7 linked regions of the Homo sapiens genome follow. The protein of the gene in region 1 purifies or fractionates together with the protein of each later gene. This does not show direct contact. Each region holds a gene or a part of one and is shown in the gene's direction. Other genes may lie near its edges.

Region 1 (3,500 bases):
ATGTATGCCTTGGTAGAAGAAATGAACTAGGAGTTCACAGATGAGAGTACCAGTGTTTTTAGTGAATTATTGCATTTATATAGGTCTTGACTTCCTCAATTATAAAATTAGAATGTTTGACTTGACTTGTATAGTTTGTGTTGCATGCACAAGTCTTAGAACAGTTCTTGCATACCGATAGCCTAGTTGCTCCCTCAAGTCACCCCTTGCCAGGGGTTATCTGCAGCTCTTATTCATGCGTATTCCACCTGTCCAGATTGTCCTGTGAGTGGACCCTATTTGTTCTTCAGATATCTCATGGGTCTGTGCCTGAAAATTGTCCTGTTTTGGAAAACAGCACTGTTTGGGCTGCTCTGTTGATTATACCCTTTGTGATGGAAAGCTACGGCTTTTATTTACTTACTTATTTTTTTGAGATGGAGTCTTGCTCTGTTTCCCAGGCTGGAGTGTAATGATGCAATCTCAGCTCACTGCAACTTCCGCTTCCTAGGTTCAAGCGATTCTCCTGCCTCAGCCTCTCGAGTAGCTGGGATTATAGCTGTGTGCCACCACGTCCGGCTAATTTTTGTATTTTTAGTAGAGGCTAGGTTTCACCATATTGGCCAGGCTGGTCTTGAACTCCTGACCTCAGGTGATTTGCCCGCCTCGGCCTCCCAAAGTGTTGGGATTATAGGCGTGATCCACCTTGCCTGGCCAAAGCTGCAGCTTTTAGTGCAACCTGTGTAATTTAAACTGCTGGCCCTTTAGTGAGCCATTACTGACAGGCCGGCTTACTTCCTGACAGTAAGAGCGGTATGAAATGTCAGCTTACTATGCTTTAAGGAGACTAACAGACTACAAACTAGCAATATAAGAGTATGAAAATGGATTTTCTGCATGGCATGGTGGCTCACACCTGTAATCGCAGTACTTTGGGAGGCCAAGGCGGGCGGATCACCTGAGATCAGGAGTTCGAGACCAGCCTGACGAACATGGAGAAACCCCGTCTCTACTAAAAATACTAAAAATTAGCCAGGCGTGGTGGCAGCAACCTGTAATCTCAGCTACTCAGGAGGCTGAGGCAGGAGAATCGCTTGGACCCGGGAGGCGGAGGTTGCACTGAGCCGAGATCTCGCCATTGCACTCCAGTCTGGGCAACAAGAGGGAACTCCGTCTCAAAAAAAAAAAAAAAAAGAAAAAAAAGAAAATGGATTTTCATCATACCTGAAAACCAGTCTTTCTCATCTGTGGTACTGGAGAGAATGAGGCCCTGCAGCAAATGATTTGCAGGACTAATCTCTGAATCGTACAAAGATGGTGTTATATAGCCAGTGCTACTCTAGATGCACGGGAGATAAATTACTTCATTACCTTCTGGCGTCCAAACTGCACTGAACACCTCAGCAAACTTGGGTGGATTTTAGATTTTGAGAGGAGGCACAGTAATACATGACATAATTTAGATACCTGCATGACAGGCCAGGGGTGGTGGCTCACTCCTGATCTCAGTACTTTTGAGAGGCTGAGGCGGGAGGATTGCTTGAGCTCAGGAGTTCAAGAGCAGCCTGGGCAACACAGACCTCCATGTCTCCAAAAAAAGAAAAAAATTTTTTTGGAGATGGTTGTGGCGGCACTTGCCTGGAGTCCTAGCTGCTTGGGAGGCTGAGGTGAGATGATTGCTTCAGCCCAGGAATATGAGGCTGTGGTAAGCCATGATCGTGCTACTGTACTCTAGCCTGGGTGACAGAGTGAGACCCCATCTCAAAAAAAAAAAGATACTCACATGAACTTGGAGCTCAAGGTAGCTCGTGGTTTCAACGTCAGATTGCGCTAGACTCCTTTTGGAGATGTCATACTTTTTTTTTTGCAAAACTGCGTTCTGGTAATGACTGCAATAGAAAGCAGATGCCTCAGGAAGTTCATGAGGAACAAGAGAAAAGGGGGCACGTTTGGTCTCCAGGATTGGAGAAGGTATGCAGTGCCCAGTAGGCATATGAGTCCCATTAGTAAGTTTGGTGTTTTTAAAATAATTTATTTCAATTTATGTTTTGTTTTTCTTTTTTTAAGGCTGCCAAGTTTTAGGGAATGTAAATTTTTGTTGTGTGGATCTCACTACTTAAACTGAACCTGACAAAGATTTCTTTTGGCCCACGGAGCTTCTGGATTGCATAGGATGGTGTGCCTGCGGGCATCAGGGTGGAGCTTCCTCAGACCTGGCTGCTTTATTTTTATATCTTTTTTAAAAACAGCAATATTTATTTTGCCCTCAGATATAAAAGGAAACTCCTCATCAATGACTTTGGAAGAGAGAGAAAATCATCATCAGGAAGGTAAAGGCTGTGTAAATGTTTCTTTTCTAATTTGATAGACCTGTAATTTGTTAAAAAAAAAAAATTGTGACTGTCAGAAATGCTGACTGTCGCAGTAGCATTTATTAATACCTTTTTCACTAATTTGAAATACTGTATCTGTTGTGTACTAAATTCCCATACATGCAGTCTCCGGACTATTTAGGATTCATATGGTTGGGAATCTGGAGTGAATCTTCCATTATTGTGTTTTGACATTTTCTTGGCTTACCTTACATACATGGTGATCTTAATTGCAGGGCTTATTCTGTTAATCTGTTGTTTTTTCAGTTCTGATTCAAAGGAGTCTATGTCTACTGTGCCGGCTGACTTTGAGACAGATGAAAGTGTCCTAATGAGGAGACAGAAGCAGATCAACTATGGGAAGAACACAATTGCCTACGATCGTTATATTAAAGAAGTCCCAAGGTAGTCTTGTTTCAGTGGCATGTCTTGAACAAGCTGTGTGGCATTGCGTTTCTAAAGAGTTGCTTAGATTGGGTAGTACAAATGATGCTGGGGATAGTTCACACCTGCTAAGAGCTATTTAATAGGGACTTACTGGGGCTTATGACGTAAATAAAGAATGGATTGGCAACTGGAAAACTAAAGACATGAAGATTTTAAAAATCATTTTCATATAATTTTGAATGTTAGATAACATTTTATTTCTTAGGAGTCAGCAATCATAGATGTAAGCTTATTAAAATACATGATGGGGAAAAATGAAGTTCAAGTTAAATATTGTAAAATTCTAATTGGAGAAAAAAAAATTGGCATTGCCCTATTGTCTTTAAGCAGCATGTTCTTGCCTATCCTGGTCCCTCAAACACACAGACACAGAAGGATATAAAGAAAGCTTTAGTGTTTTCCTGAACTTTTTGGCAGGATTGGGGTTGAAATTTACATTTCTGGGCCAGGTGCAATGGCTCATGCTTGTAATTCCAGCACTTTGGGAGGCCGAGAGGACTGCTTGAGGCCAGGAGACTAGCCTGGGCAATATAAGGAGACCTCATCTCTACAAAAAATTTAAAAATTAGCCAGGTGTGGTGGTTTGCACCTGTAGTCCCAGCTACTTGGGAGACAGGTGGGAGAACTGCTTCAGCCCAGGAATTCAACGTTACAGTGAACCATTAATCACACCACTGCACTCCAGCCTGGGCTGCAGAGTAT
Region 2 (3,500 bases), 1.3 Mb from region 1:
ATATTCCAGATAATGAGAACTAATATTTTTAGAGGCAGAGATGGCTGATGCCTGCCCCATCTACCCCCTTCCTGCTAGAAGCCAGTGACACTCCCTCCCTCTGCAGGGACAGACCTCAGAAGTCTTCTCGGTGTATGCTGGGTTTGGTGGCTCACACCTGTGATCCTAGCACTTTGGGAGGCCGAGGCAGGCAGATTGCCTGAGCTCAGGAGTTCGAAACCAGCCTGGGCAACACGGTGAAACCCCATCTCTACTAAAAATACAAAAAAATTAGCTGGGCGTGGCAGCGTGCGCCTGTAATCCCAGCTACTGGGGAGGCTGAGGCAGGAGAATTGCTTGAACCCGGCAGGTGGAGGTTGTAGTGAGCTGAGATTGTGCCACTGCACTCCAGCCTGGGCGACAGAGCGAGATTCCATCTTTAAAAAAAAAAAAAAAGGTCTCAGTGTAGCATGCAAGCAGCCTCTGTCCGTACAGAGTTCATCGAGCAGTACAGGCTAGCACATGTAATGTGCTCCCATCTGATTGCCAGCTAGACCTTGTGATTTAAATAGTGAGATGTTGTTTTAAAATTTTGCTCTGCGGATAAAGAATGGTGAAGGTTCAGAGAGCTTAACCTGATTCAGTACTGTGTGTGGTTCACTATCAGCATCCAGCAGGATCTCGCTCTGGAATGGCTCGTAACAGAAGCGGAGAGAACAGAGCAATGGCGATGGAGCCCTCTGGTCTATCTGGGGACACTCGCTGTCTTTAGACTCTGGTTCAGGAAATTGTACCCAAGGTGGTTTGTTTGTGTTTTTTGTTTTTTTTTGTTTTTGAGACAGAGTCTTTGTCTGTCGCCCAGGCTGGAGTGCAGTGGCACAATCTCAGCTCACTGCAAGCTCCACTTCCCGGGTTCACGCCATTCTCCTGCCTCAGCCTCCTGAGTAGCTGGGACTACAGGCGCCCGCCACCACACCCGGCTAATTTTTTTGTATTTTTAGTAGAGACGGGGTTTCACCATGTTACCCAGGATGGTCTTGATCTTCTAACCTCGTGATCCGCCCGCCTTGGCCTCCCAGAGTGCTGGAATTACAGGCGTGAGCCACCGCGCCCGGCCCCAAAGGTGTTTTTAACAAACATTGTTTAGCACTGCCACGGTAGGAAGTTACTAGAAGTTACTAGGGATTAATAACTCAGCGTGTGTCAGTTGAAACAAATTGGTTCTTGAAATATTCTTGAAGAAAATGACGAAAATTGCCTTGGCAGTATTTATTGAACTAATGGATGGTTTCCTACTCTTCAGGTAGCAGAGGGGTTTTTCATGCATTTTAAGTGTAATAATAGCACTTTCACATTTCAAAGTGAGATAAGAGAAATGGTTTTTTCACATCCTTTTCTCCTGTCCACATGATTAATATTTCGGTTGACCTCTCCAGATGGAATGTGCTCTAAATGGAAAGGAGGGCCAGGTCGTGCTTCTGTCCCTGCTGGAGCATCTTCTGCTCTTGCCCAGCTGCTTCTTAACCCCTTCCACTCTCTTTTCCTCCTCTTCCAGCTCCTGGTTTTGACCTTAAATCTGGGTTTCTTAGCCTTTAAGTTCATCTCCGACCCTGGGGAAGTGACCTATGTCTGGAGCAAAATCTGACCTGTCCCCTCCTGAAACAGAACTTGGAACCAGAGTGGCAGTGACCAAGTCACCACACGCTCCCTCCTGCCACACGCACGCATTCTTTCAAAGTGACTTCACAAATTAGAGGAATCCCTGAGGAAGGCAAGGAACACTTAAGTCGGGTTAGATGAGAGGTTTCAAATGTCTGCCGAGGCACCGATTTGTGGTGGGTTTGTAAAACCACTGAATTGGATCATTCCAAGGGCCTTCCATGGCATCAAGATTTTGCCTTGATGCCATTTCCTTTCGGAATTGCTGTGTAAACACCAGTGTAATGGCAGTTCCTTAGCAAATAGAAGAAGTTCCGCAGCAAGAAAGAGTTTGCAATGTGGCCATCTCAGGTTGCAGAGGCCACTCGTTCCTCACCCATCTCTGTCCTCTCACAGCTTTCTTTAGGGAATTCAACCTCCAGGACAGCCAACTTTGAATACTGTTAAACTTGGTCTTTTTTTGTTGCTGCTGGGAAAATAACCAAATTATTTGATACTTGCTAACCGTATTTAAAATATTGCTCCTCTTGGTGTTATAAAGGTGAAGCCCCTAAACTGTGACCTCGCTAACTTGTTTATTGCCTTGTGTCTAGTATGAACTCACAACTACACATTTCTTAGGAGTACCTTTGATGGGAAATAGTACCCTCCTCCATGACGGAAGGAGTCTAAACCCATTTCCACTTTTCCAAATGTGCACGTTTTAAACCTTAAGGCAGCTGTTACAGCCGAGGGAGCCATTCATGCCTTGAGCTTGACTAGTGTGTTCTTTTTTACCCTTCCTTTTGGCACCGGTAGACTCTAAAGAAGAAAAGAAAGTGATTGCCCCATTATCCTTGAAAGTTGTTTTGCTCTTCTCAAAATTCTGTGATTAGTAGAGAAAGCCTATCGTGCATGAAAGCAGATTGGGTGTGAACTTTGACATCACTGTGCATAGCCCTGAACTTTAAAGTATGCACTGTTCTGATGTCCCCTGTAGTGGAAATCACAAGAATTTTTTGTGAGATTGTTTCTGACCTGTTTTCCAGCGTACACAGACTTTACTAAAAGAGTACAAAGAAAGGGATAAATCCAATGTATTCAGAGATAAACGCTTCGGAGAATACAACAGCAACATGAGCCCCGAGGAGAAGATGATGAAGAGGTTTGCTCTGGAACAGCAGGTATGGAAAGAAACTGGAGGAGGGTTTTTGCTGTACATTTCACAGGGAAGTCAAGGCCAAGGAGAAGGCTGACTCTGCATGTTTTGCATGTTCCTGGGCACTCGGAAGGTCCAGGGGATAGCCCTCGAATCCTGTGCCTTATCTGGCTAGGCCAAAGGAGAAGCAACCTCTTCTGCAAATGTTAGCTGAATGGATAAATGCCTTAACTCTACTACACGGCAGCAGTGTGCACAGGAGTTCTCAGCTGAGCAGCATTGCTGGAGTGGAAACTGGCCCCTGGGCTTATTTAAGAATTCCCCTCCATGAGGCCGGGCGCGGTGGCTCATGCCTGTAATCCCAGCACTTTGGGAGGCTGAGGTGGGTGGATCATGAGGTCAGGAGATCGAGACCATCCTGGCCAACGTGATGAAACCCCGTCTCTACTAAAAATACAAAAATTAGCCAGGCGTGGTGGCGCATGCCTATAATCCCAGCTACTCAGGAGGCTGAGGCAGGAGAATCACTTGAACCAGGGAGTCAGAGGTTGCAGTGAGCCCAGATCACTCTACCGCACTCCAGCCTGGGCAACAGAGCGAGACTCTGTCTGAAGGAAAAAAAAGAATTACCCTCCATGAGTTTCATTTCTGTCTGAATCATGAATCATTGCTTAGTTGACCCAAAATACTCTTTAAGGCTGCTTAGGATTCGTTGTCATATTTC
Region 3 (3,500 bases), on another chromosome or scaffold:
TAGTAACCTCAAGGTGAGTGCTTGTGGAAGAAAGACAAGGATGGATAAAACCAAATCAGTCATTAGTAGTAGGAGGTACGAGGCCGTGAGTGATGGCTCACAGCTGTAATTTAGCACTTTGGGAGTCTAAGGCAGGAGGATCACTAGAACTCAGGAGTTTGAGACCGGCCTGGGCAAGATAGTGAGACCCTGTCTCTATCAAAATAAAATAAAAATCGTAGGCAGTGCTTGTCAGTGACTCTGGCTGAATTCCTCTTGCTGGAGTCTTACCGCTTCTCAACAGGTGTCGTTTTTCTGCAGAAAATCAAAACTTCAGCAGCTGACATTCTTTTTCTGCTTCAACAGATTTTGCCACTTGCCCCAAGTAGCCATGTGTTCTCAGTATTTATAATACTCATCTCTTTTGCCGTAGGCATAAAAAGTTCTGAGGAGAAAAATATTTTGTATTATGTATTTAAGTTTCTCTTCTCACTCAAACCAAATCATCTTTTTGATTAGTGCTGCAAATTCTATATATGAAAATTTTTATATACTTTTCTGGAAGCATTCAATAAAATCTGATTTTATTTAATTTAAAAAATACTGTTTAACTCGATGCTTGAATCATAATAAAATAATTGATATCCGAAATAATTTAAAAGTGGACTTCCAGTTGTAAATAGGCTTTGTTCATAAAGTATTTATTTTAAGTTAACTGCTTAAGGATTGTAGACAAGTTCTCCCTAGAACAATGTTAAACCTTTTGATTTCCAGGCCAGCTCAAAACATGCATGGAGCATGCAAAGCTATTGTGAGTCTTTGGGAATATTTTTTCAGAGTTGTGTCTTGGGTAGATCAAGACCCATTTGACTCTTCCTTTTACTTTTCTGCCTGCCTGCTAGGCGCTGAAGATGGTCCTGATGGTTCTGATGGCCCTCTAGCTACCAACAGAAGGTTTTGAAGATCGGGGTGAACTTACCGCTTTTTATTACTTGGTTTTTCTACCATTCCTAGCCTAAACTGTTTAGGAATTTGGCAACTGAACTTAAAATGTTTACAGATCTTGTGAAGGCTCTTTCAGTGATGTGATTAATCTCTTAGCCTTTTGTTATTCTTTAAAAAGAAAGAATGCTTTGTCAGCTGCTGGTAGCTAACATACTTTTCCCATTCTGTTTTCTCTCTTAGAGCATGGATCATTTTGATGACATTGGTCCCAGTGTTGTAATGGCCTCCCCAGGCATGATGCAAAGTGGCTTATCCAGAGAATTATTTGAAAGCTGGTGTACTGATAAGAGGAATGGTGTCATTATAGCGGGATACTGTGTAGAAGGGACACTTGCCAAGGTCAGTTACAGTCATAGGCTGTTGTGTTATTCCTATTCAGAATCACGGAGGTGGCACGGTCCTCACAGGTTTTTGCACTGAAGTAGTTCTTCAAATAATACAAGTTTTGATTTTTAAAAATGAGGACGGGAATAGGTAGCTAGAGATGTGCGTAGGATGTAGAATTATGCAGACACTGAATGGCATAATGAGGTCCCAGGTGATTGATATACACATTAAAGTTTGAGAAATGCTCATCTGGTTGCAAGTAGAGAAGAATGGACAGGAACCTGTTTGAGACAAACACGTGAATACTCTCCGTCCTCTCATGAAGAAGAGGTTGACTAATACATATGATCTTAAAAAGCTGTAGAATGTGTTTGGGTTGACCACTTTCTACTATTATGAAACATTGATTTTCAGCTCTTAGGGATGTAGAAATTGTAGAAAATATATGCAGAACTTGGGAGGCAGTTTCTGAGCATCCAGGCATCACATTCTCATCCTCTATTTTATTTTTAAAAATATGATATGATTCTTTGATAATCTTTATTACTTTACCTTATTCTATAAAGTTCTTTAGTGACAATGTTGTATTTAAAATAGATTTCCAGGCTGGGTGCAGTGGCTCACACCTGTAATCCCAGTACTTTGGGAGGCCAAGGCGGGCGGATCACCTGAGGTCAGGAGTTCGAGACCAGCCTGGCCAACATGGCGAAACCCCGTCTCTACTAAAAATACAAAAAATTAGCTGGGCGTGGTGGCGTATGCCTGTAATCCCAGCTACTCGGGAGGCTGAGGCAGGGAGAATTGCTTGAAACTGGAGGCGGAGGTTGCAGTCAGCCGAGATTGGCGCCACTGCACTCCAATCTGGGTGACGGAGCAAGACTCCATCTCCAAAAAAAAAAGAAAAAAAAAATTTCCAGGCCTGGCACAGTGCCTCACATCTGTAATCCTAGCACTTCAGGAGGCCACAGCAGGTGGATCACTTGAGCTCAGGAGTTGGGGACCAGCTTGGGCAACATGGAGAAATCCCATCTCTACAAAAAATACAAAAATTAGCCAGGTGTGGTGGCACGTGCCTGTAGTCCTAGCTAGTTGGGGGACTGAGGCAGGAGGCTTGCTTGAACCCAGGAGGTCGAGGCTGCAGTGAGCTGAGATCGCACACTGCATTTCAGCCTGGGTGACAAAGTGAGACCCTATTTGAAAAAACAAAGATTTTCAGAATAGAAATATATCCACATATCTAGGAAATGACTTTGGAGAGCACAAGAATAGTTGGGAATACAGGTTTGTCTTTCTAAGCATAAGAGTTATGATTCTCACTGCCAGCACTCCAGATAGATGAGTTTTAGTTAATTTGTTTACTTTTCTCATTAAATGTTTGCTTGATTGAGAACATGAGTATTTGATATTTACTGAGTCAGTTATATTAGAATGATTTTGTGCGTAAGGTCCTAAATTTAACATGAATTTATGACTGCATGAAAAAAATGAAAATGTACCTTTACGATTATAACTGGGTAGTTTGTTTTGTTATTTTTCTTTATTTTCCACAGCACATCATGTCTGAACCTGAAGAAATCACTACTATGTCTGGACAGAAGTTACCACTGAAAATGTCTGTTGATTACATTTCTTTCTCAGCTCACACGGATTACCAGCAAACCAGTGAATTTATTCGTGCTTTGAAACCGCCTCATGTGGTTAGTCTATGAATTTCATTTATTGTATTAAAGGGAAAAAAAGTGCATACCCAGGAAACTGTGCAGCAGGCAGTTCACAAAGCAGGCATCATCACCTACTAATGCGACACCCCCTGAGCAGAGCCTTTCACATGCACTCGGATTTGGCCTTTACAACTCCCCTTTGATTTCAGCAAGCTGCCCCCTTTCTCCAGAACTGACTGACTCAGACCTACCAACCCCAATCCTAATGTTTTTCTGTTATTTTCTGCTGCCTCTCCAATAATTTAAGAGCCAGGCTTGGAGTATGACTGCTCATTTGGAATGCCAGCTCCATCTCTTACTTACTATGTAACCCTTGGCAAGTTACTTAACCTCTCTGTACCTCATTTGTAAATAGGAATAATAGCTCATAAGGTTATTGTAAGGATGAAGTGAAAGAACATATCTAAAGCACTTAATATGGTGCCTGGCACATAGTAAATGCTTAATATATATATTATATATATATAT
Region 4 (3,500 bases), on another chromosome or scaffold:
AAGGCAGGAGAATTGCTTGAACCCGGGAGGCGGAGGTTGCAGTGTGCCGAGATCGCGCCATTGCACTTCAGCTTTGGGCAACAGAGCAAGACTCCGTCTCAGGAAAAAAAAAAAAAAAAAAAAAAAAGAGTGTCTCTTAAGCACAGCTAGGTTTTTGGTTTGTTTTTTTTTTAATCTCATAAAATCTCTGCTTTTTTTTTCTTTTATTGTGATACATAACATTTCCCATTTTAACCATTTTCAGGTATACAAATCAGTGGCATTTAGTACGTTCACATTGTGCAATGACCGCCAGAACTTGATCTCTGCTTCTCTGGCAATTTAGTTCATTTACGTTTATTATAGTTATTTACATATATATGATGGTTATTTATATATGTGTCTACATAATTAGTTTTTATCAAGATGGGGTCTTGCCCTGTTGCCCAGGATGGTCTCGAACTCCTGGGCTCGAGTAACCCTTCTGCCTGGGCCTCCTAAAGTGCTGGGATTACAGGCGTGAGCCACTGCGCCCAGCCTATTGTGGTTATCAATGCATTTATTCTTACCATTTTATGGTATCTTATACTTTCTGTTTATCCTCTTTATTTTAAATTTTGTAATAGCTTTATTGAGGTGTACATGACATACAATAACTGCACTTGTTTAAAGTTTTTTTTTTTTTTTTTTTTTTTTGAGACAGAGTCTTGCACTGTCGCCCAGGCTGGAGTGCAGTGGCGCAATCTCGGCTCACTGCAAGCTCCACCTCCCGGGTTCACACCATTCTCCTGCCTCAGCCTCCTGAGTAGCTGGGACTACAGCCACCCGCCACCACGCCTGGCTAATTTTTTGTACTTTTAGTAGAGACAGGGTTTCACCATGTTAGCCAGGATGGTCTCGATCTCCTGACCTCGTGATCCACCCGCCTCGGCCTTCCACTAAGTGCTGGGATTACAGGCATGAGCCACCGCACCCAGCCTTAAAGTTAAATTTAATAAGTTGTGACATATGTTTACACCCATAGAACTCACCACAATCAAAACATAATATCCTAAAAATTTCACACCTAAACATTTCCACCTTCCCCTTTGTAATACTTCTCCCTGCCTCAGTTTCCTCACCCTATCCCTGGGCAACCACTAATTTGCTTTCTGTCACTAGGTAAGTTAGCATTTTCTAGAATTTTATGTAAATGGAATCAACGGTATATAATTTGGAGGGGGTAGTTTCTTTAATCATAATTATTTTGAAATTCATTCTGTCTTCTAAAGATTGGGCATCTCTAATTCCAAAGTCTGAAACTTCTGGAGCACCATAAGTGGACAATTCCACATCTGACCTCATGTGACAGGTTGCAGTCAAAACTTTGTTTCATGCACAAAATTATTTAAAATACTATGTAAAATTGCCATCAGGCTGTTTGTATAAGGTGTAGATGAAACACACAAATTTCATAGTTAGACTTGGAGCCCTTCCCAAGATACCCCATTATATATATGCAATTATTTGAAATTTGAAACACTTCTGGTTCTAAGCATTTCAGATAAGGGATATTCAGCCTGTATTTTATTTTTCTTTTATTTGTGTGTTTTTTGTTTTTGTTTTTGAGAAGGAGTCTCACTGTGTTGCCCCGGCTGGAATGCAGCGGTGCAATCCTGGCCCACTGCAACCTCTGCCTCCTGGGTTCAAGTGATTCTCAGGCCTCAGCCTCCTGGGTAGCTGGGACTACACGTGAGCACCACCACGCCCAGCTAATTTTTATATTTTTAGTAGAGATGAGGTTTCAGCATGTTGGCCAGGCTGGTCTTGAACTCCTGACCTTAGATGATTCGCTCGCCTCAGCCTCCCAGAGTACTGGGATTACAGGCATGAGCCACCACACCTAGCCTACATGTATTTTCTCATCCTCTTTTTTTTTTCCCCGTTTCTAGTTATATATATTTTCTTATTATTCATTTTGTTTTTTTCTGCTGGTTTGGGAGTTAGACGTGCTATGCTTTTAGAGGTTATTCTTGAATTTTTTTTTTTTTTTTTTTGAGACACTAGCCTGTTGCCGAGGCTAGAATGCAGTGAGTGGCGCAATCTCGGCTCACTGCAAGCTCCGCCTCCCGGGTTCACGCCATTCTCCTGCCTCAGCCTCCTGAGTAGCTGGGACTACAGGCACCTGCCACCATGCCCAGCTAAATTTTTTTGTATTTTTAGTAGAGACGGGGTTTCACTGTGTTAGCCAGGATGGTCTCGATCTCCTGACCTCGTGATCTGCCCACCTCAGCCTCCCAAAGTGCTGGAATTACAGGCGTGAACCACCGCACCCAGCCAAATTTTTTTTTGTTAACCTGTAAACTAACTTGTATACCTAATCAGAATAGTCTAAAATTAGTTGAATCAATGTTCTGAGGAAAACCCTTGAGAAAATAAAGTTAGAATTTCAAGTGTCAGAATCTTTTTGACATTGAGAGTTTGTGGCTTTGTAGTGTAGAAGAATAATTCACAGACACTATTTCACTTGTGTAACAAGGGAGACAGATTTTCAGATTAATTTCCAACCGAGCAAAAGCAGGATTTATATAGGAGAAAGAGGAACAAGGAGAGAGGGCAAAACCACAGAACAGTGGATTCTGTTTGCCCGTTTTTCTGTGTAAACTCTGATATTAACTCTCCTTGAGTATGCCACCCAGGGTTGGTGGATGCTCTAGAAAACACGATAGGCCCTCTGCCAGTAAGGGTTTTCAGCAACTCCAGATTCAGCCAGTCTAAATATACCCTTTCCATCATCAGCATTTCTCAGCCTTCATCTTTTGGTCAAAACAAGCTTGTAAAGGAGTGGGTTTATTCTCATGAGCTTCAGCCTCTTTGATGTGGGATAAGGCCATCTGTTGTCTTATGGTGATCTGAAGGTATTAGGGGGAAGTTCATCTATACCTGATGTCATGATTGACCTGTGAACTCTTTTTCTTTTTTTCTTTTTTTAGATGGAGTCTTGCTCTGTTGCCCAGGCTGGAGTGCAGTGGTGCAATCTCATCTCACTGCAACCTCCGCCTCCCTGGTTCAAGCAGTTCTCCTCAGCCTCCCAAGTAGCTGGGATTACAGGCACGTGCCACCACGCCTGGCTAATTTTTTGTATTTTTAGTAGAGACGGGGTTTCGCCGTGTTAGCCAGGATGGTCTCGATCTCCTTATCTCTTGATTGCCTGCCTCGGCTTCCCAAAGTGCTGGGATTACAGGCGTGAGCCACTGCGCCCAGCGACCTGTGAACTCTTACAGAGCTGCTGTCTACTTCTAAGAGTTACCTGATTCTGGAGGCGTTTTTTTGTTTTTGTTTTTGTTTTTTAAGTGAACCCCAGGATCTCTAGTGAGACTGAATGTCCGAGTTAGGATCCTAAGCAAGGGTATACATCTAGGGCTTTCCATCAGTAGTTGTGGTTGGGAAGGCATGGGAAAATGGTGTGGTCCTCTGCAGTGTAGTTAGGCCTGACTTCCGTTGGTGTCTCTCAATAATGAGTTTTTAGTCTCTTAACTATG
Region 5 (3,500 bases), on another chromosome or scaffold:
GTGTATACCTATGTAACAAACCTGCATGTTGTGCACATGTATCCCAGAACTTAAAGTATAATAAAACATTTACAAGAGCCAATTATTAAGTTGTAGAAGTTTAATATTTTTCCCATTGAAAATAGTCTTACGTTATTTTTCTGCTAAATTCTTTAAGAGAGATTGGATTTATTTGAACTTCCTAGAAATTCTGTTGATAATTGCTAGTGATAGCAGTAGTTTACATTTTTACATATAAGATGAAGAAGCAAGGCATTTATTTCAGTAATTTATGTTGATTCTTGCTTTTGGAAAATAGCATAATCAACTTGCTTTTAGTATAGAATTTTCTAATTAACAGTCATGTTAAGTTGGTACCTACTGAGTTTTTTAAAAATGTGAACTATACATCAGAATATTGTTTATAGTAGTAAACAATTAGATACAACCTATTAAGAAAATATAAATGATAGCTGAAAGTTTGTGGTTTTTAACAGTTTTATTGAGATATAATTAATATACCATATAATTCACCCATTTAGGTGACCAATTCAATGGTTTTTCATATGTTCACAGACTTATGCAATCATCACCACAATCAATTTTAGAACAGTTTCATCACCACAAAAAGAAACTTGTACCCATTAGGTGTCTCTCCCTATTCCGCCCCAACTCTCCTAGGCCTCCTCCAGCTTTAGACCAACCACTAATCTACTTCCAGTTTCTATAGATTTGTCTATTTTGGACATTTTATATAAATGAAATCATGTGATATGTGGTTTTTGTGATTGGCTTTTTTCAGTTAGCATAAAATATCCATGTTGTAGCACTATTTTTATGACTAATACATATTCTATGGATATACCAAGGTTTGTTTGTATATTTGTCAATTGATGAACACTTAGGTTGTTTCCACTTTCTGACTATGAATAATACTGGTATGAATATTTGTGTACAGATTTTTATGTGGATATATTTTTTTCATTTCTCTTATATATACACCTAGGAGTGGAATTGCTGGGGCATATGGTAACTCTATGTTTAACCTTTTGAAGAACTGCCACATTGTTTTCCAAAGCAGCTTTACCATTTTACATTTCCACCAGCAATGCATGAGGGTTTAAATTTCTCCACACCCTCTCCAACACTTGTTATTGTCTGTCTTTTTGATTGTAGTCATCCTAGTTGGTGTGAAGTGGTATTTCATTGTGGTTTTGATTTGCATTTCCCTGATAGCTAATGATGTTGAACATCTTTTCATGTGCTTATAGGCCATTTGTATATTTACTTTGGAGAAATGCCTTCAGATTGTGCTTTTCTAAAAGCATTCATTGCCAAATTTTACTTTGAATAATGTGCTTGAAATCAAAACATGAATCATATTATAGCTAGGACATTAAGTGTCACTTACCTTACCTTCCTTAGGGAATATTGGAAATTTGAAGGACATAAGGATTACTTTTGTTAATGGAAATTGACTTTGTCTTTTTTTTTTTTTTTTTTTTCAGTGCTACACTGGAATTTGGAAATCTAGATGAAAGTTCTCTGGTTCAAACAAATGGAAGTGACCTCAGTGCTGAAGACAGAGAGCTCCTGAAAGCTTATCATCATAGTTTCGATGATGAAAAAGTAGACTTGGATTTGATCATGCATCTTCTATACAATATCTGCCATAGTTGTGATGCTGGTAAATACGTGTTGTCTAAAAGAACTGGAGCAAAATATATACTTTAAGAATTAATATTTTAAGTGTACAAATTTTTATATAATTGCACTGATAGTAGTAAGTGAATAATCTCCTGTCATCTTATGATAGTTTACCAGTACTTGAAAACATGTGATACAGATTTTTATAATTCTGTTGATTGCCTCTGATTCACAATGAGATTTAATATTAAAAAGTCATTCTTCTCCAAGGTGCAGTACTAATTTTTCTGCCTGGATATGACGAAATTGTTGGACTGAGAGATCGCATCCTGTTTGATGACAAGCGGTTTGCTGACAGTACACATAGGTAAGGGCTAAAGCCTTATATCTGTTGCTTAAAATAACGGACAGGTCTTATAGTATGTTTTCTCTTTCAATTGTCTGCAGATACCAAGTCTTTATGCTTCATTCAAATATGCAAACATCCGATCAAAAGAAAGTATTAAAAAACCCACCTGCAGGTGTTCGAAAAATAGTAAGCTTCATAAAATCTTCTTTTTAACACTTTCATTAGTTATTTTTTCTGTTTTTTTATTAACTTTAAAGTAATATCTTGTTGCAGATTCTTTCCACCAATATTGCTGAAACCAGCATCACAGTCAATGATGTTGTCTTTGTTATTGATTCTGGTAAGGTGAAAGAGGTATGTATGGGTAAGTTGTAGTTTTACTTAAATGAAGAAGATTAAGTTCTACTTCAACAAATACTTTTATTTATTATTTAGTTGTTTTTCTTTTAATTTTACCTCTACTCAAGACAGCTTGGACCAGCGCATGCTTTTATAAGCAGAATTTACGAAAAATGTCTGGTTCTAGATAAATTTAACATACTAAATATTGATTTTACTAAATATTCTGCCTTAAATAATTCAGTATATAGAATCAATTTTTGTTATTTTAACAAAGTATACAAAAATGTAGCTCTGCTCACCAAATACTAGGAAGAAAGTAAAGGGTTTGGTTAGTTATAGTGAAAATGTTGTCACACAGTATGGGAATTTGATTACATATTTTTTATGTTTTCCTTCTACATATGCACATGGATTATGTCTTTGTTCACTGTTAAATCTTTAGTGCCTCACCTATAGCAGGTGTTCAAAAGATACTCAGTTCAAGAGAACCATGCTGAAAGAAAGCAAAGAAATAGATAAACCATGGGATAACCAGCAGCTAAATTGGACTTAACACTTGCTTTTGTAAAAAAAAAGTTTCATTGGAACTCAGCTAGTCTACTTTTACCTTTTCTCTATGGTTGCTGCCTTCATACTGCAAGGCAGATTGGAGTATTTGTAACAGAGACCCTCTCAAAGCCTAAAATATTTACTATTTGAAAGTCCTTTTCAAAAACAGCCAACCTTTGTTATAAAAAAAAAAAAGCCATTTATTTCCTTTTAGTACTGGAATGCCCAGCAGTTGTCCATGTTCCTAACTTTTGGTAGATAACATTCGCTGAAAAAATGAAAGTGGTAAAGATAATTGATTTTTCAAGGGAAGACATATTACTCATGTGTGGAAAGCAAATTATATCTATTTAGTGGATAAAAATGATCGTTTTTAATGTGAAAAAAGTAATTGCCTTATGTTTTCAATGTAATTTTAAGGAATATTTTATAGAAAATAAAATTTTATTATAAAAATTGGCCATATGCTTTATAATTGAATAAAGGTGGGATAAATTTTATTTTTATATAATAGTACATTAATGAGTATTATCACTAAAAATCTTAATGGTGAGCCAATGAAAATTCAGATTTTATTGCCCTAAAATTACCTAAAGTGGATAAAGTGGGTTTTGAATATTTTAGAAAGTTCCTT
Region 6 (3,500 bases), on another chromosome or scaffold:
AATAGTTTTTAGATTATATTAACAAAGTGGTATTTGGAAAAAGTAGGCATCTTGAACAGTCTTCCAAACTGATCTACCCCATCCGCCATATATCTCAGTTGTTCCTGGCTCACCAAAGAATTCTAAATCCTTGTTGTCTAGGAATATGAGACAGTAATGAAAGGCTTGGACCGTAATGCTCCCTCGGTGCCTCCTCAGAATACTCCTCAAGAAGCTCAACAAGTAGATATGTGGAAGAAATATATACAGTGGGAAAAGAGCAACCCTCTTCGTACAGAGGATCAGACCCTTATAACAAAAAGAGGTAACATGATTAACCCTCATGGGACTTCAGTTACATGTATGTTAGGCCACTTGGTATCCCCATAGGTTACTAAAATTTTCTTACCCCTAATCTTTTTTTCTTTTGTTCTTCAGATTCAATAATTCCTATAGATCTATCTCCATATTCACTGAACCTTTGTTTTCATCATATGCAGTCTGCAATTAAGCCCATCCAGTGAACGCTTTATTTCAGATACTATATTTTTCAATTCTATAAATTTCCATTTTAGAAATTTTTTATTTTTTATATTTCTTTTTTATGGTGTCCATTTCTTAGTTGAGATTCCTTGTGTGTTCATTACCATCTTTTTCTTTGTTTCTTAGAACATATTTATAATAGTAGTTATAAAGTCCTCATCTGCCAATTCCAACATCTGGGCCTTCAACCACCATGGAGTTTATTTTCTTTGATTGCTTTTTCTCTTGACTGTGGTTTACATTTCCCTATTTCCTGTTTAAATTTTTTCTTTTAGATATTGTACAAATGTACAAATGAAACATTGTAAAGACTGTAGATTCTGTCATCTTCCTCTGAAGAATGTTTTATTTTAGCAGGAAGTTAAATACTACTGTCAGATTACTTGGACTTTGTGGAGGCTTAGTTTTATACTATGAAGACAGGTCTGTTTTAGTTTTACCATTAATCTCAGATTAAATACCTTATTCTTGGGACATAGTCTTTACTCCTAAGACAATGAAAAGTCTAAGGTGTTTACCCCAACCATCTAATTGGATCGGACTCAAATTCTAAACTTCATCTCCCTTAGTTGCTGAGGTATCTATTTAACTCTTTCTGCCTTCCAGCTTTGTTTTCTGCTGGTCTGTTTGTATTCTTCCCTGTGTATGTACATTTTAGGGATCAGCTGAGGATTTGAGAACATTTATGCCCAGATTTTCGGGATCTGGCTTTCTCCTTTTGGGGATGTCTCCTCAATTTCCAGCTGCTCTCATAGGCCAGAACTCCATGTTACTTCAAGACAGTAAGACTGCAGCATTTGACTTGAGTTCTAGCTATCCCAGAAGTGCACAACATGGGCATGCGTTTGAAGGGAAAAGCCATATTTAAATATGGATCTCACCTAGTGTTGTTCTGTCTTTTTAAGGGCTCAGTCTCCTGATTTCTGCTTCTTTTGGTCATTTCCAGTACATTTAGATAGTTGCTTTTGTATTTGTGTTTTGTTTATTTATAATTTTTACTTGCTGAGGGTTGGTCTGATACAAACTACTCTGTCAGTGCCAGACTCTTAATTTGGAGCTTTATTGAATTCCTCAATCTTGCCTTGCTGTTGCCTTGCTATCTTACTTGCAGGTCTTTGCAAATATTGTTTCCTTTGCCCACTCCATTTTTGTATCTACCCCATCCTTACTCCACTTCACTTATTTGCCTCTGACCAGCTTCATCCCTTCTTCAGGTGTTGTGCTAGATGTCAGTTCCTTAGTGAAGCCTTTCTTGAGTCCCTAAACTATGTTAAGTCCTGCTGCTGTAAGTTTTCAGAGTATACTGTACTTTCATCATCATAATCCTTTTGATCTTTGCTTTCTGTCTGTCCTCCCCGTATACTGCAGACTTCTTGAATATAGGAAGTCTTACTCACTGGTATATTCACCGTGCCTTCCACATTCCCTGGCATATAGTTGGTGCTCAATAAGTATTAACTTAGGCTGGGTGCAGTGGCTCACATCTGTAATCCCAGCACTTTGGGAGGCTGAGGCAGGAGGATTGCTTGAGCCCAGGGGTTCAAGACAAGCCTTGGCAACATGGTGAAACCCCGTCTCTAAACAAGATTTTTTTTTTTTTTTTTGAGATGGAGTCTTGCTCTGTTGCCCAGGCTGGAGTGCAGTGGCGTGATCTCCACTCACTGCAAGCTGTGCCTCCCGGGTTCATGCCATTCTCCTGCCTCAGCCTCCAGAGTAGCTGGGGCTACAGGCACCCACCACCATGCCTGGCTAATTTTTTGTATTTCAGTAGAGACAGGGTTTCACCATGTTAGCCAGGATGGTCTCGATCTCCTGACCTTATGATCCGCCTGCCTTGGCCTCCCAGAGTGCTGGGATTACAGATGTGAGCCACCGCACCTGGCCACAAGATTTTTAAAAATAAGCCAGATGTGGTGGCACACGCCTGGTCTCAGCTACTTGGGAGGCTGAGGCAGGAAAACCACTTGAGCCCAGGAGGTCGAGGCTGCAGTGAACCATATTTGTGCCACTGCACTCCAGCCTACGTGACAGAGACCCTGCTTCCAAAAATAAAAAAAATTAATAAGTGATGGATAGATGGAGGGAACTTGGATGGATGATGGTGCCAGAAATCACTAAAGCTTTTTATTTCTAATTATCATTAATTTTTGAGGAGCCTAATTTGGTTATGATATTTACATTGATAGTTTTACAAATAATAATTATTTTAATTGAATATTGTTTGTTAATTTCTTCCCTTAGTTATGTTTGCTTATGAACAGTGCCTGCTTGTGCTGGGCCATCACCCTGATATTTGGTATGAAGCTGCCCAGTATCTTGAGCAGTCAAGTAAACTGCTCGCAGAAAAGGGAGTAAGTGTTCCTTCCCTATCCCCACTTTGATATTTTTGTGGTTTTGATATAGCAATTATTTACTGAAAAATATAACTGAATTTTGGTAATAAAGCATAAGTATTGAAAATTTAAGTTTACGTTCATATGAATCTTAGTGACACTCATATAATTAGACCTCCTTAGAATTAAAATAAACTGGCAGTTTTTTAACGTATCAAAGTAATGAATCATTTAGAGTACTTGCATGGTTATTTTGTAAGTTAAAATAATGAAAGGAGTTTTTGGAATTTTTTTAGAATCCAGAAATGCATATGTGTTTATGTATGTGTGTGTGTGGATACATATATATGTGTGTACATACATGTATGCTTTCTTAGACACATAAATAAAATAAAGTAGATGTAACTTTATTAATTTTATTCTCTCACAACTATATTAAAATTATTGAAGATGAGCTTTCTTTTTTTTCTACCAGGATATGAATAATGCCAAATTATTTAGTGATGAAGCTGCTAATATATATGAAAGAGCCATAAGCACTTTATTGAAGAAGAATATGCTTCTTTATTTTGCATATGCAGATTATGAAGAGGTAAGTAAAAATGTTTAGAGCCTTCTTATAATTCAATTTTTTAGTGCAGGACT
Region 7 (3,500 bases), about 23 Mb from region 1:
TACTCAAAGGTTTAAAGAAGGCATTCCCTAAAATCTTCATCTCCATCTTTGGATAACAGTTTTTGGTGAACATTTTCTAAGATCTCTGCATATTGACTCAAAAATATGAACTATAAAATTTAATATCAGTGGGATCAACGCGTGTTATTTTGTACTTTGATTTTTTTTTCCACTCAGAAATGTCATTAACTGTAGGTACACATTACGCTTTTAAATTGGCTGCCATAGGCCGGGCGCAATGGCTCACGCCTGTAATCCCAGCACTTTGGGAGGCCGAGGCGGGTGGATCACGAGGTCAGGAGATCAAGACCATCCTGGCTAACACGGTGAAACCCTGTCTCTACTAAAAATACAAAAAATTAGCCGGGTGTGGTGGCGGGCACCTGTAGTCCCAGCTACTCTGGGAGGCTGAGGAAGAATGGTATGAACCCGGGAGGCGGAGCTTGCAGTGAGCCGAGATTGTGCCACTGCACTCCAGCCTGGGCAACAGAGCGAGCCTCCATCTCAAAAAAAAAAAAATAATAAAAAATAAATAGATTGACTGCCATAGTACTCCAGTTGTAAAGGTATGACATCACTTATTTAACCAATATCCTGTTCATTGATATTTAGGTAGTTTTCCACTTGTTGCTATTTTATAAATGAGAAGTTTGATGAACATCCTTATACATACGTATTTGCACACATCCTTGAGAGGTTCCTGGAAATAAGATTGACGGATAAAAAGCAGTGCTTATTGCCGGGTGTGATGGCTCACACCTGTAATCACAGCACTTTGGGAGGCCTAGGCGAATGGATCACCTGAGGTCAGGAGTTCAAGACCAGCCTGGCCAAGGTAATAAAACCTATTTTTGTCTCTGTTAAAAATACAAAAATACACTGGGCATGGTGGCGCACTGCTGTAATCCCAGCTACTTACTCCGGAGGCTGAGGCAGGAGAATTGCTTGAACCTGGGAGGCAGAGGTTGCAGTGAGTCGAGATTGCACCACTACACTCCAGCCTGGGTAACAGAGGTAGACTGTCTTTAAAAAAAAAAAAAAAAAGCAATGCTTATTTAAAATATCATGATTTTGATGACCAGTTAATGTCTTCCTTAGCAGTACTTCAGTGCCTGTTATTATTCCATGTAGAATTTTTTTATTTTTTAGAGACAGGGTCTTCCTCTGTTTCCCAGGCTGGAGTGCACTGGTGTGATCATGGCTCACTGCAGTCTCAAATTCCAGGGCTCAAGTGATCTTCCCGTCTCAGCCTCCCAGGTAGCTGGGACTACAGGCGTGCCACCCCACCTAGCTAAGTTTAAAATTTTTTTGTAGAGATGGGGTCTCACTGTATTGCTCAGGCTGGTCTCAAACTTTTGGCCTCTGGTGATCCTCCCACTTGGGCCTCCCAAAGCACTGGGATTACATGCGTGAGTCACTAGGTCTTGCCCTCCATGTAGAATTTTAACATGGTATTAGAACTTAAAAAGATCTTTAATAATAACCAATATTGGTGGGGCGCGGTGGCTCATGCCAGTAATCCCAGCACTTTGGGAGGCCGAGGCAGTCAGATCATGAGGTCAAGAGATTGAAACCATCCTGGCCAACATGGTGAAACCTCGTCTCTACTAAAAATACAAAAATTAACTGGGTGTGGCAGCATGTGCCTGTAGTCCCAGCTACTCTGGAGGCTGAGGCAGGAGAATCGCTTGAAACAGGGAGGCAGAGGTTGCAGTGAGCTGAGATTGCACCACTGCACTCCAGCCTGGTGACAGAGCAAGACTCCGTCTCAAAATAATAGTAATAATAACAACAACAACCGATATTGGGCATTTGCAATGTGCCAGACAACACTTAAAGCACATCACATATATTAACTCATTTAATCCTATCTATACTCTACAAAACATATTGATAGCCACATCTTATAGGTGAGGGAAGAAATAACTGTGATCCTATAGTTGGCTTAAGTCTTGAGCCAAGATTGAACTGAGACACAGTACAGAGCAGTATGTTCAACAACTGTGTCATGTCATACCTCCCTCCCTGCTCGTGGTGTGGCTGTGTCTGAAGCACTGACTTGATACCAGTTTTTAAAAACCCTTATACTTCAACTAGTAAACTTTTAAGAACAAAACTCCTTTATAATAAAAAGTATCTTTTAAAAAAGAAAACACGCATGTGCACAATAGTTGACAAATATTTATGAAGTGGAGGGTTTGATTTTCCCCTTTTACTCACCTTTCATTTGTACTCCCTCTCTCATCGAAGGAAGGTAGTTTGAGCCATAAGCAACATTTCCAGGTGTCTGAATTTGCCTCCTGCATCCTCCCTGTTTTCTTACTTTAATCTGAGACTAAAAGTATCTGAAAATGCTCTTCATTTTGCAGATCAGTAAATTGAGGCAGTGTCTTGCAATGGTGATTCCAGCATTCCTTTTATCTTAATACCACAGCTGTCGCCATTGCTTGATCAGCAGCTAACCTTTTATCTTTAGAATGTATTTTATACATCCTTTGTTTGGTTTGGTAATGAAGCATCTGATGAAGTGGGCCCCTGAAAAAATCTTTGTTAGTATAGGTATTACTTTAACAAACTAAGGCAATATATAATACATGATTTACTTTGTCACCTCTCTTCCCCCAAATTTTGTAACTCTTGACCATGTCTTAATTGCCTGGTACTATGCTAGAAGTATAGAAATCATTAAACTAGGCTGGGCATGGTAGCTCATCGGTAATCCCAGCACGTTGGGAGGCTGAAGCAAGAGATTGCTTGATCCCAGGAGTTGAAAACCATCCTGGGCAACATGGTGAGACCCTTATCTCTACAAAAATAAGAAATTAGCGAGGCGTGGTGGTGCATGCCTGTAGTCCCAGTTACTCGGGAGGCTGAGGTGAGAGGACCACTTGAACCCAGAAGTTTGATATTGCAGTGAGCCATGATCCAGTGAGCCACTGCACTCCAACCCGGGTAATGGAGCAAGATCCTATCTCAAAAAAAAGGAAGTTGTTTCAATTATATTTTTTGTCATCTCCTCCTTCCCCCATGGTTGAGTGAATACTAGAAACATGAATCCTTTTTGTTCAGACCAGATGTTCTTTAAGAGTTCTTTTCTAGCTGTATGATCCATGATCTTTAAGGTGTCAAGTATTTGAACCATTTGTGAGTACAGTGCTTCTTACTTTGCTGGGCACATTTCTGTGTACTCTTATTATAAACTACACCTCGTTGGCATTTTGGAGCAATGTAAACACTTAATTAACAGTCACCTTAGGCCAGAAGCAGGAGAAGCAAAGATAGTTGATGGCATATTTCAGAAGATAGGTCCAGACTCTCAAGTATTGAATTGTGAGACTTCATTTTATGTTTATTAAGTTATCCTTTGACTTTTCTTTCCCATTGATTTTCTTTCTGTTTATGCCAGGTGAAATGAGAGGCTTCATACAGTTCTGGCTTGTATGCTCTGTGATTTTTGTAGAAGGTGAACATTGGGATGGAAGAGGGGAAAATCACTTTTC

What was found.
Region 2: the proteins of SLBP (region 1) and NOP14 purify together in Homo sapiens (co-immunoprecipitation; one large-scale study listed by IntAct). This does not show direct contact.
Region 3: the proteins of SLBP (region 1) and CPSF3 purify together in Homo sapiens (affinity purification with western blotting, with the first as the bait; one study listed by BioGRID). This does not show direct contact.
Region 4: the proteins of SLBP (region 1) and EIF3C purify together in Homo sapiens (affinity purification with western blotting, with the first as the bait; one study listed by BioGRID). This does not show direct contact.
Region 5: the proteins of SLBP (region 1) and YTHDC2 purify together in Homo sapiens (co-immunoprecipitation; one large-scale study listed by IntAct). This does not show direct contact.
Region 6: the proteins of SLBP (region 1) and CSTF3 purify together in Homo sapiens (affinity purification with western blotting, with the first as the bait; one study listed by BioGRID). This does not show direct contact.
Region 7: the proteins of SLBP (region 1) and DHX15 purify together in Homo sapiens (affinity purification with western blotting, with the first as the bait; one study listed by BioGRID). This does not show direct contact.

Annotation. Positions count from the first base shown.
Region 1 is NC_000004.12:1,698,820-1,702,319, reverse strand, and holds part of SLBP (histone RNA hairpin-binding protein), read left to right. Parts: intron 1-2,249; coding exon 2,250-2,309; intron 2,310-2,618; coding exon 2,619-2,756; intron 2,757-3,500. UniProt on the Homo sapiens protein: RNA-binding protein involved in the histone pre-mRNA processing.
Region 2 is NC_000004.12:2,956,907-2,960,406, reverse strand, and holds part of NOP14 (nucleolar protein 14), read left to right. Parts: intron 1-2,666; coding exon 2,667-2,801; intron 2,802-3,500. UniProt on the Homo sapiens protein: Involved in nucleolar processing of pre-18S ribosomal RNA. Has a role in the nuclear export of 40S pre-ribosomal subunit to the cytoplasm.
Region 3 is NC_000002.12:9,440,654-9,444,153, forward strand, and holds part of CPSF3 (cleavage and polyadenylation specificity factor subunit 3), read left to right. Parts: coding exon 1-13; intron 14-1,164; coding exon 1,165-1,323; intron 1,324-2,861; coding exon 2,862-3,008; intron 3,009-3,500. UniProt on the Homo sapiens protein: Component of the cleavage and polyadenylation specificity factor (CPSF) complex that plays a key role in pre-mRNA 3'-end formation, recognizing the AAUAAA signal sequence and interacting with poly(A) polymerase and other factors to bring about cleavage and poly(A) addition.
Region 4 is NC_000016.10:28,717,964-28,721,463, forward strand, and holds part of EIF3C (eukaryotic translation initiation factor 3 subunit C), read left to right. Parts: intron 1-312; exon of another isoform or gene 313-3,069; intron 3,070-3,500. UniProt on the Homo sapiens protein: Component of the eukaryotic translation initiation factor 3 (eIF-3) complex, which is required for several steps in the initiation of protein synthesis.
Region 5 is NC_000005.10:113,551,694-113,555,193, forward strand, and holds part of YTHDC2 (3'-5' RNA helicase YTHDC2), read left to right. Parts: intron 1-1,487; coding exon 1,488-1,666; intron 1,667-1,896; coding exon 1,897-1,993; intron 1,994-2,073; coding exon 2,074-2,161; intron 2,162-2,248; coding exon 2,249-2,329; exon of another isoform or gene 2,330-2,339; intron 2,340-3,500. UniProt on the Homo sapiens protein: 3'-5' RNA helicase that plays a key role in the male and female germline by promoting transition from mitotic to meiotic divisions in stem cells.
Region 6 is NC_000011.10:33,098,981-33,102,480, reverse strand, and holds part of CSTF3 (cleavage stimulation factor subunit 3), read left to right. Parts: intron 1-141; coding exon 142-304; intron 305-2,763; coding exon 2,764-2,873; intron 2,874-3,330; coding exon 3,331-3,447; intron 3,448-3,500. UniProt on the Homo sapiens protein: One of the multiple factors required for polyadenylation and 3'-end cleavage of mammalian pre-mRNAs.
Region 7 is NC_000004.12:24,578,055-24,581,554, reverse strand, and holds part of DHX15 (ATP-dependent RNA helicase DHX15), read left to right. Parts: intron 1-3,500.